Linked DNA regions of Homo sapiens: region 1 is linked to region 2. Evidence: fine-mapped expression QTL. A gene starts in region 2. The other region holds a variant in brackets. All regions are shown on one strand. Distances are between the middles of the regions.

Evidence for each region. PIP is the estimated chance that this variant, and not a neighbour inherited with it, causes the effect. A credible set is the group of variants that fine-mapping cannot tell apart.
Region 1: its variant is the best candidate, but not a certain one, in a credible set for the expression of TUT7 in whole blood (TOPMed, PIP 0.89).

Annotation. Positions count from the first base shown.
Region 1 is chr9:86,384,224-86,388,618 of GRCh38, reverse strand. No RefSeq gene overlaps it. Among named protein-coding and RNA genes, the nearest start is that of TUT7, 32 kb to the right of the region's middle. The variant C/T (reference allele first, on the strand shown) is at 1,836.
Region 2 is chr9:86,352,114-86,356,508 of GRCh38, reverse strand. It overlaps TUT7 (terminal uridylyl transferase 7), which reads left to right and starts at 2,099. Exons shown (of 27, transcript NM_024617.4): 1 at 2,099-2,238; 2 at 3,279-3,829. The coding sequence starts at 3,310. RefSeq lists a silencer at 1,841-2,020 and an enhancer at 2,041-2,250.

The DNA of each region.
Region 1 (4,395 bases), 32 kb before region 2:
TCACCCACACAGCTCAGATCTGCCCAACACCAGCTCTATTTCCTTTTGAAGGAGATACAGATTCTCTAAAGAATCTGTATTTCTTTCCATCATATCTCTGTGTCCAGGGCTAGGAGAGGGACCTCCATCTGTGCACAGCTGATTGATAAGGTGGGAGGCAGCAGTTTCTTGGCCTCTGCTGCAGGGTGAGTCTTTAAAGATGAAGATAGCCTAGAGATGCGTCTGAAAGCCAGAGGATAGCCCCAGCTTTGAGCAGTGATGGGTGATCTACAGGCTCTGTGGAAGTAGCCCTGTGGCCCAAGAATGGACTCAGCTTCCAGATCTAGTGAATTCTCGGAGACGTTTAGAAAAGTCTAACCCTGGGCAAGCCCTGAGGTCCAGTCCATGGTTAGCAAGAAGTCTATAGCATTTGATGAGTGTGGAGAGAAGAGAGCTATTCCCATGGAGACAGTTTGAAAGGCATAGCTGTGGGATCTAAGAAACAGCTGGGAGTTGGGTATTCAATGTCCACAGAAAAAAACATGGCTGAGACTTAGAAGTGGGGAGAGGAGGGAAAGACAGGGTGGCTGGTCTCCATGGCAACAGGAAGGAAAGCAGAACTTCCACCAATCACTTTGGGGGTGAGATTAGTTGAGGGCAAATTGTAAAGCAGGTGACCCATGCCCAGCATGGAATCGGGGGAAGTAGATCACTTAATGGAAACGTAGGATGGTTTCAGCATTGTAAAAATAACAGCAGGGAATGGTCAAAAAGGGAAAGCCAAAATTGGAACTTTCAGGCATACTTGAGATTTATGTGTTCTTGGAAGGAATCCAGGTGTGTCTGGATTCTTTATGGTGCCATGGAAGACAAGTGGCAAAGTAGCCAAGAGATTACCACACCTAGGGTGAAAGGGTGGACCACGCATTCTGAAAGTGGGCCTGAAAGTGCAGGGTGGGTCAAAAGGAGCAAACCACTGGAGATGAACTAAGGCAAGAGAACGTGCCATTAGTTCATGAGTCTTAAACCTCAGGATCAGATATCAACAAGATGGCTAAGGAGAGAGACTGGAAAGACCAGAAAAGCAAGAGAGCTTCCCAACGAACCTATGGATATGTATTTAAGGACTCTTTTTACCAATCATACAATTGTAGCTCATCTCATCCTCAGAGGGCATCCAAGGGGAGTGAAGAAGGAAATCTGAACAATGAGGCATCTATCCAAAAAAGGTGGAACCAGAGAAGACATCATTTAAATTTGAAAAGATTGAGATAAACTAACTGGTAAGTTCAAGATTTGTTTCCATAGTTCCTAGAGGCCAGTAGGGTGCCAGAGCAGGAATAGATCAATTTTAGGGGAGAAAGTACATTCATCTGAGTCAGGTCTTAGGTGTTCAATTTCAGGACATGTGTTGCCTTTACCAGATATTCAACGCTGCAAGAACTGGGACTTTGTTTTCCTCACATAACAGGCACATATCAGGCACTCAACATTTGCTGAATACATAAAATGAATGAATAAATAAATGACTCATTCTAGAATAGCAAATCCTAGGTTTTAATTACTACAAGTATGCTATCTCACTGATTTTCCTAAGATTTAAAAACGTGCTCTGGAAATAATTTTTTTTTTGCTTTACACAACATATCTGGAATAATTTAAACTAAGAGACTCTTTGGCAGGGAGAATCAGGAGATCCTGATAGTTCTTTGCTATTCCTCAAGCCACAGAAGTCAGAAAAGTCCAGTCTAAGCCTAATTTAAAAGAAGGTCTTTGCAAAGACTGTATAAGTAGACCCCAAGGACCCTTAGGAAGGTTGCCTCTTTCCCAATACAGCATTGTAGAGCTTCTCTCTC[C/T]GTCTTCCACCAACCATAGGGCAGAAAAAGGATCCTCTGTCTCCTTTGATATTCTAAAAATGGTTGATGTCTTACTGGAAGTTCTTCTCTGCCCAAACATCAAAATTCTAAACATATTTTTCAATTTTCCCACATATAGCCTGATTTACAGGAAAGCTGAAATATGTTCCAGATCTGGAGACATATTTGATTAATGTAGGTATAATGAACGTTGTTGGCTGCCATCCATTCTCACCTTTCTCCTTCAGGAAAGGACCCAGATTTTATTCAATATCTCACTCTCCCTCATGTAACTCAAGTGCCCTTAAAGCAAGCTGGCCCATGCCCCTAGCTCCAGGGTAGACCTGATGGTCTAAGGCAGTGGTTCTCAACTTAGTGGTGATTTTCTCCCCAGAGATATTCGGCAATACCTAAAATGTGACATTTTTGAGTGTCATAATGTGAGGGGAGGCATCTAGTGGGTAAAGGCCAGAAATGCTGCTAAACATCCTACCATGCACAGGGCAACCCACAACAAAGAATTATCCAACCCAAAAAGAGAATGGTCCTGAGGTAGAGAAACCCTGGTTTAAGGCTTATGGCATCCCCCTTACAAGGGACTGATTTAAGAAGAAGACTTTTGAGTTAGGAAAAGAAACAGCAAGATGCCTGCCAAGAGACACCAAACATTCAGAACCCCACCTCAGCAAGAAAGGACCAAGGCAATAACTACAGAGCTAAGATTTGAATGGAGTGTCAAAGGGAGAGTGCTAGAGTGCAGTGGGTGAGTTAGAGGTACAGCTGTGGTGATTAGAAGTGGAGGAGGACAGCATGGAGGCACCAGGACTCTGTAGCCTCGTTTCCCCAACATGGGTCACATCTGCCTGGAGTCAGAAGAGACTCTGCATTGTAGGGAAAAGTCAAGCAGAAGAGCCCCACCTATCCCCATTGCTGCCACAAACACCTATAAGTCCTTACATCAGAAGAATCTCACAATCCTTGCAAGCCCTGAATCCAGTTTGGAAAGCTGGTGGGAATTCACACAGCTGCATTGCCCCAGATTAGTAGGATAAGGTGTGCACCACCCAACCACTCACCCACTGTGAGCCAAGGTGTTGTAGCACAGCACTGTCTTGAGACCAGAGCCCCCCTCTGGAGTGGACCCTGCTCTGGGGTCCAGTAGCCAATGTGGCTCTCCAGCACTGGGGCTCCATCCTCATTCCACCAAGCCCACATAGGTGGCTGAATGTCACAATCCTAGCTGTACAGAGCATGGTCCCAGGACCGCTGTGACTCTGGTCCTGTGCAACAGGGTAACCAACTCCCCCTACCCTCACCAAACTTCCAGCTGGAGGAACAGTTGGCCAGTACCATCCAGGGAAAATCTACCCTTGAGGTGGCCAAATCACTGCCAGTTACCCTCCCCCAAGCAGGAAAGGCCTCAGAGCCTCCAAAAATCCAATATATCCTTGAGCCAGAGGGATGCCTATGTACATGTGTGTAGAACCTGGCAAAGCTGCACTGCCATCACCACAAACTCTCTCATCATAGGCCACTGAGAAACACAAACACCACTAGTGTGGATTACAACTGAGTAAATTACACAGACTACACTTCTGTATCAACCTCGAACCAAGGCCAATACACACCACACCAAACCAACACTCTAAGGCCCATTCATCTGAACAAGTGTTTTCATACAAAGCCTATTCTGTAAAATACAAAGAGGCTACTTTTCCTTAAGATGCATAGAAATCAACGTAAGGGCACATCAACCATGAAAAAGCAAGGAAACATGTCACATACCAAAGGAAAATAATAATTCTCCAGTAACAGGCCCCAATCATAAGGAAATATATGAAATACCAGAAAAGGATTCAAAATAATAATCTTAAAGAAACTCAGTGAGATATAAGAGAATACAGATAGACAATTCAACAAAATTTGGAAAACAATTTAGTATTTGAATAAGAAATTCAACAAAAAGATATATATCAATAAACAGACCCAAACAGAAATCCTGTAGCCAAAGAATTCAATGAATAAGAGAGCTTCAACAACAAACTAGACTGAGCAGAGGAAAGAATTTCTGAACTGGAAGAAAGGACTTTTGAAATAACACAGGTATGCCAAAAGGAAAAAAATAATAAAAGAATAAAGAAAGCCTACAGGATTTATGCAACACCACTAAGTGAAAAAAATACATATATTGTTGACATTCTAGAAGGAGAAAAGAAGAAAAAAGGTGAGAGAAACATACTTAATGAAATAATATCAGAAAACTTCCCAAGTCTTGAGAATGAGATAGACATCCAGGTTCAAGAAGCTCAAACAACCCCAAATATATTTAATCCAGACAGGTTCTCTCTGATGCACATTATACTCAAATTGTCAAAAGTCAAAAACAAAAAAAAAGAATTTTAAAAGCAACAAGACAAAAGCATCAAGTCAACTATAAGGGAATCTCCACTAGACTAACAGTGAATTTGTTTGCAGAAACCTTTCAGGCCAGGAGAGAACAGGATGATATATTCAAAGTCCTGAAAGATAAACTATTGGCCAAGAATATTGTACACAGCAA
Region 2 (4,395 bases):
GCTTACGCCTGTAATCCTAGCACTTTGGGAGGCCAAGGCCGGTGGATCACTTGAGGTCAGGAGTTCCAGACCAGCCTGGCCAACATGGTGAAACCCCGTCTCTACTAAAAATACAAAACTTAACCAGGCATAGTGGTGCCTGTCTGCAATCCCAGCTACTTGGGAGGCTGGGGCAGGAGAATCACTTGAACCTGGGAGGCAGAGGATGCAGTAAGCCAAGATCGCACCACTACACTCCAGCCTGGGCAACACAGTAAGACTCTGTCTCAAAAAAAAAAAATTAAATCCTTAGAAAGATGTATCCTCTGCTGCTGCTCTAGAACTCTAGGTGGAGGCAAAGGTTGCAGCCAGCGGAGATCATGCCACTGCACTCCAGCCTGGGCAACAGAGTGGCACTCCATCTCAAAAAAAAAAAAAAAATCCTTAAAAGTATGTATCCTCTGCTGCTACTCTAGAACTCTAGGTGGAGGCAGATTTCTAAACCAGTTCTTTTGCACAGGAATTACTGGTTTGGGTGGGGCGTGGTGACGCTGCTGTCTCAGAATTAATGTAATCATGCATCTCCACACTCCCTTTTGGACTATATTTTCAAGGCCACTGTCTGCCTGTTGAAGAGACTATCAGTTTGATCCTCACGTATTTTCACAATCAAAATATCTAAGTAAGGAATTATATAAAAGTTGTAGGAATGTGTTTTATATCACTTTTAGTATAGCCACATGGTTAATAACAGCCTCATATTCAGGGTCTGGATTGCAGCAGTGCCATTTACTTCACTGCAAGTGCTAAATGTCCTCATCTTTAAAAGTGGGATAATGATATAGTCTTCATGAAGCTGTGAGGATTAAAGAAGTTAAGGCTGGGTATGGTGGACCACCCCTGTAATCCCAACACTTTGGGAGGCCAAGTTGGGCGGATGGCTTGAGGTCAGGAATTGGAGAGCAGCCTGGGCAACATAGGAGACCCCTGTCTCTACAAAAATATAAAACAAAGGAGTTAATATTTGTAAAGCCTTCAAAACAGTTATTGGCATAGCCAGAACTTTGTGTGTTATTATTTTAAGACCATTGCTCCACAGGACCTGACAGCTTTCAATTTACATGCTTTAAAAAAGCAGAGAAATGAAAACTGTCGATTTTCCCAACGCTCCCTAATTTCACTAGTTGCTTGATGTTTTTCAAAGCATTTAGAACACTGTAAACAGCAAGGAAGGTCATACAGTAAAGAAAGAAAAAGCAACCCCGAGTTCGAGGTGTGCACTCTTCAACTCAAAAATTCGAATGTAACGCTCTCTGGTCATCCCTTGCCATTACACATATTCTTCGAAATGAACTGATTTTTTTTTTTTCCAAGTAAAAGTAATCCTTACACAACCTAAGAAAAAAGCAGAGCATTTTCCTTGACCACTTTGAGATCTGGGTGAGCAGTGGATGTTTAAATGCTGGCATTTCTACAAGGTCGGCAATTAAGAATTCACGAAAACATTAATCACTACGAATTATCAGAAAAACACCAAGAGCGCTACGAGGCCTCGGAGCCTTTACTCCCCCTGGAAGTAACCGGGGAGCACCCAGGGGCAAAGCCGAGGCCCCAAGCGCGGGGAATGCGGCTTTGCCCGACCGCTGGCTCCGCGTCCCTCTCCGGGTGCATAAGTCTTGGCTCCCGCGCCTCTCCCGAGCACTTAGCCTCCCGAGCAGAGAGGGGAACCAGAGGAGCGTCGAAGCCGGGAGAGAAAAGGGGCGGGCGCCGCTCTGGTAAGAAGTTCGGGCCTGGCCCCCAAGCGCCGGCGAACCGGCTATCCGGCGAGCCAGTAATTAGCCCGCTCCGACGGTTGCGCCCGGTGGCCAGACCCGGCGCCCGACACCTGGAGCGAGTGCGCTGGGGCGCCGGACAGGAGAGGCCAGGCTGGCAAAGGCGCGGGAGGCGGGGTCGGAGCGTGGGCGGGGCACCGCGGGGCGGGGCGCGTCGCTCGTTTCCGGTGTGCGCGGCGGAGCGCTAGGGCGGGGGCACAGTCGGCTCCCAATCGCGCACAATGAGACAGCGCTGAGCGCCGGAAGTGGGGCCGAAGGAAAACACGGAGAGGGAGCCCGGCCGGGACAGGAAGAGGCTGGGGACCGCGGCGAAGGTGGTGAGTGCTCTTGGGCGCCTTCTCCCAACGTCCCTGCCAGACTCGCCTCCGGGCTGATTCTCCAGTTGGTTTCCTGGACTCCAGAGTAGCTGTCCGGCCTGGCCCCGGAGGTACGTTGGTTCCATCCCCCGCCGGCCTCCTCGCACCAGTTTGGGTGACCGAGGAACCCCCAGGCCGGCAGAGGCTGAGCCCTCGGGTTCGAGTCCGTGTTTTCACTTTTTGTCAGACTGCGGGCGCAGAAGACGGGATTTGGGTCAAGACATTCGGCTCTGGCCCCCTGGCCGGCCGGGGGAACCCTGGAACCCCATGGAGACAGCAGGTCACTTCCTGCTTCCTGGTCCCCACGGTGGCTTCTTGGCCAGGAGTGCAGGGACGCCTCCTCTTTCTCCACGTCGGGCTCAAAAGGGTGGAAACTAAGGCAGATCGGTGGTGGAGCGGTCAGATGGGGATTGAAGAGGAGTGTCATTCCTCAGGGAATTGCTGTTCCTGACAAAACCAAACTTGTTTGGGGTTGGAGAACGGGGATTGAGGAGGTTAGATGGAGTTGTCCCTTGATCGGAAACCCAGCCTCTTTAATTACAGCTGCACCTTGGTCGGAAGCCCAGCCCCTCCGTAACCTAAGCGCTCAAAGCCGGTCTGTCCAGAATAGGGGTGGTGAAGGGACGGAAAATTGGAGTTGAGAAATGTAGTACTCCTTTCACGTAAAGTTTCGGTGTATAACACTTACAAGTAATTGCCAACTTAAAAAACAAAAGACTGTTTCGGTAGTTTAGTAATAATATTGGCTTGGGATGAGGTTTTCTTTGAAGAGAAACGCCTTGTTACAGAGGGAAAAGCCGACCATACTTGATATGAGTAATATTCTACTATGCTACAGTTCTGGAACCTATAGAGCTTCTCTTATTCACACATTTAATCTTCATGCTAAATAGTAAGTATTAATTTTCATGAAGAATATTAGAGGACCAAGCCTCCCAACCTCTAGGGTAAAGCACTGATTATTAAGAATGTGATAGAATTTTTATTTTAAAAAAATAGGGAGTTTCTTTCTTACAGGCTTTGGGGCATCTGTACGATAAATTGTTATTTTGTATACTTGTATGATATCTTGTTATATAGTTTGATATTTCCCCAAAATACCTTCTTTCAGGTGCAAAGTAAGAAAATTGAAGTCAAAGACCATGGGAGATACAGCAAAACCTTATTTCGTGAAGCGCACTAAAGACCGGGGGACTATGGATGATGATGACTTCAGAAGGGGTCACCCCCAACAAGATTATTTAATAATAGATGACCATGCTAAAGGCCATGGCAGTAAAATGGAAAAGGGCCTTCAAAAAAAGAAGATAACACCAGGGAACTATGGGAATACCCCCAGAAAAGGACCATGTGCTGTTTCCAGCAATCCATATGCATTTAAAAACCCAATCTACAGTCAACCCGCTTGGATGAATGACAGCCACAAAGATCAGAGTAAGAGATGGCTGTCTGATGAACATACTGGTAATTCAGACAACTGGAGAGAATTCAAACCTGGACCTAGAATTCCTGTTATAAACCGACAAAGAAAAGACTCCTTTCAAGAAAATGAAGATGGTTATAGGTGGCAAGACACAAGAGGCTGCAGAACTGTAAGACGACTGTTTCATAAAGACCTAACAAGCCTAGAAACCACGTCAGAAATGGAAGCAGGAAGTCCTGGTAATGTTTTCCAACTTGTCAGATCACAACCCCAGAGTCAGCAATGTTTTATTCTTTTTCATCCAAATGAGTTTTGTTATTTTCAGCAATTTAGTTTCAGTTTTTCACAGTTTCTGTTTTAAGAAATGGTCACTTAGTGTGATTATTTTAAGGATAGTAATCATGATATTTGAGCAGCTAAAACACATTTCATATGTTGATCCCTTTAAAAGTTTACTTTGCCCCAGGGCTCACTTTACGTCAGTAAACATGTTTTCTGTAACGTGTTTTTTACAGAAGAGGGTAGCTATATGCTCCAGGGGACCATATCGTAATTGCTCAGTGGTTTGTGTGTTTTCAAAATTGTGATTATAATTTTGTATTTGAATAATTAATGTGTTCATAATATAAATGACAGAATATAAAGCTTTTTTTAAAAAAAAAACTTATTTGTTGATGTAAAAACACAGTATACACTGCGTATATCTCCTGCCACAAGAGATATATCTTTTGGATGTAGTGTCAGTGTCCCGAGATGGATAATCTGAGATCTTTGTTTTTCAAAAGGGATCGTGACAAACAGGTTG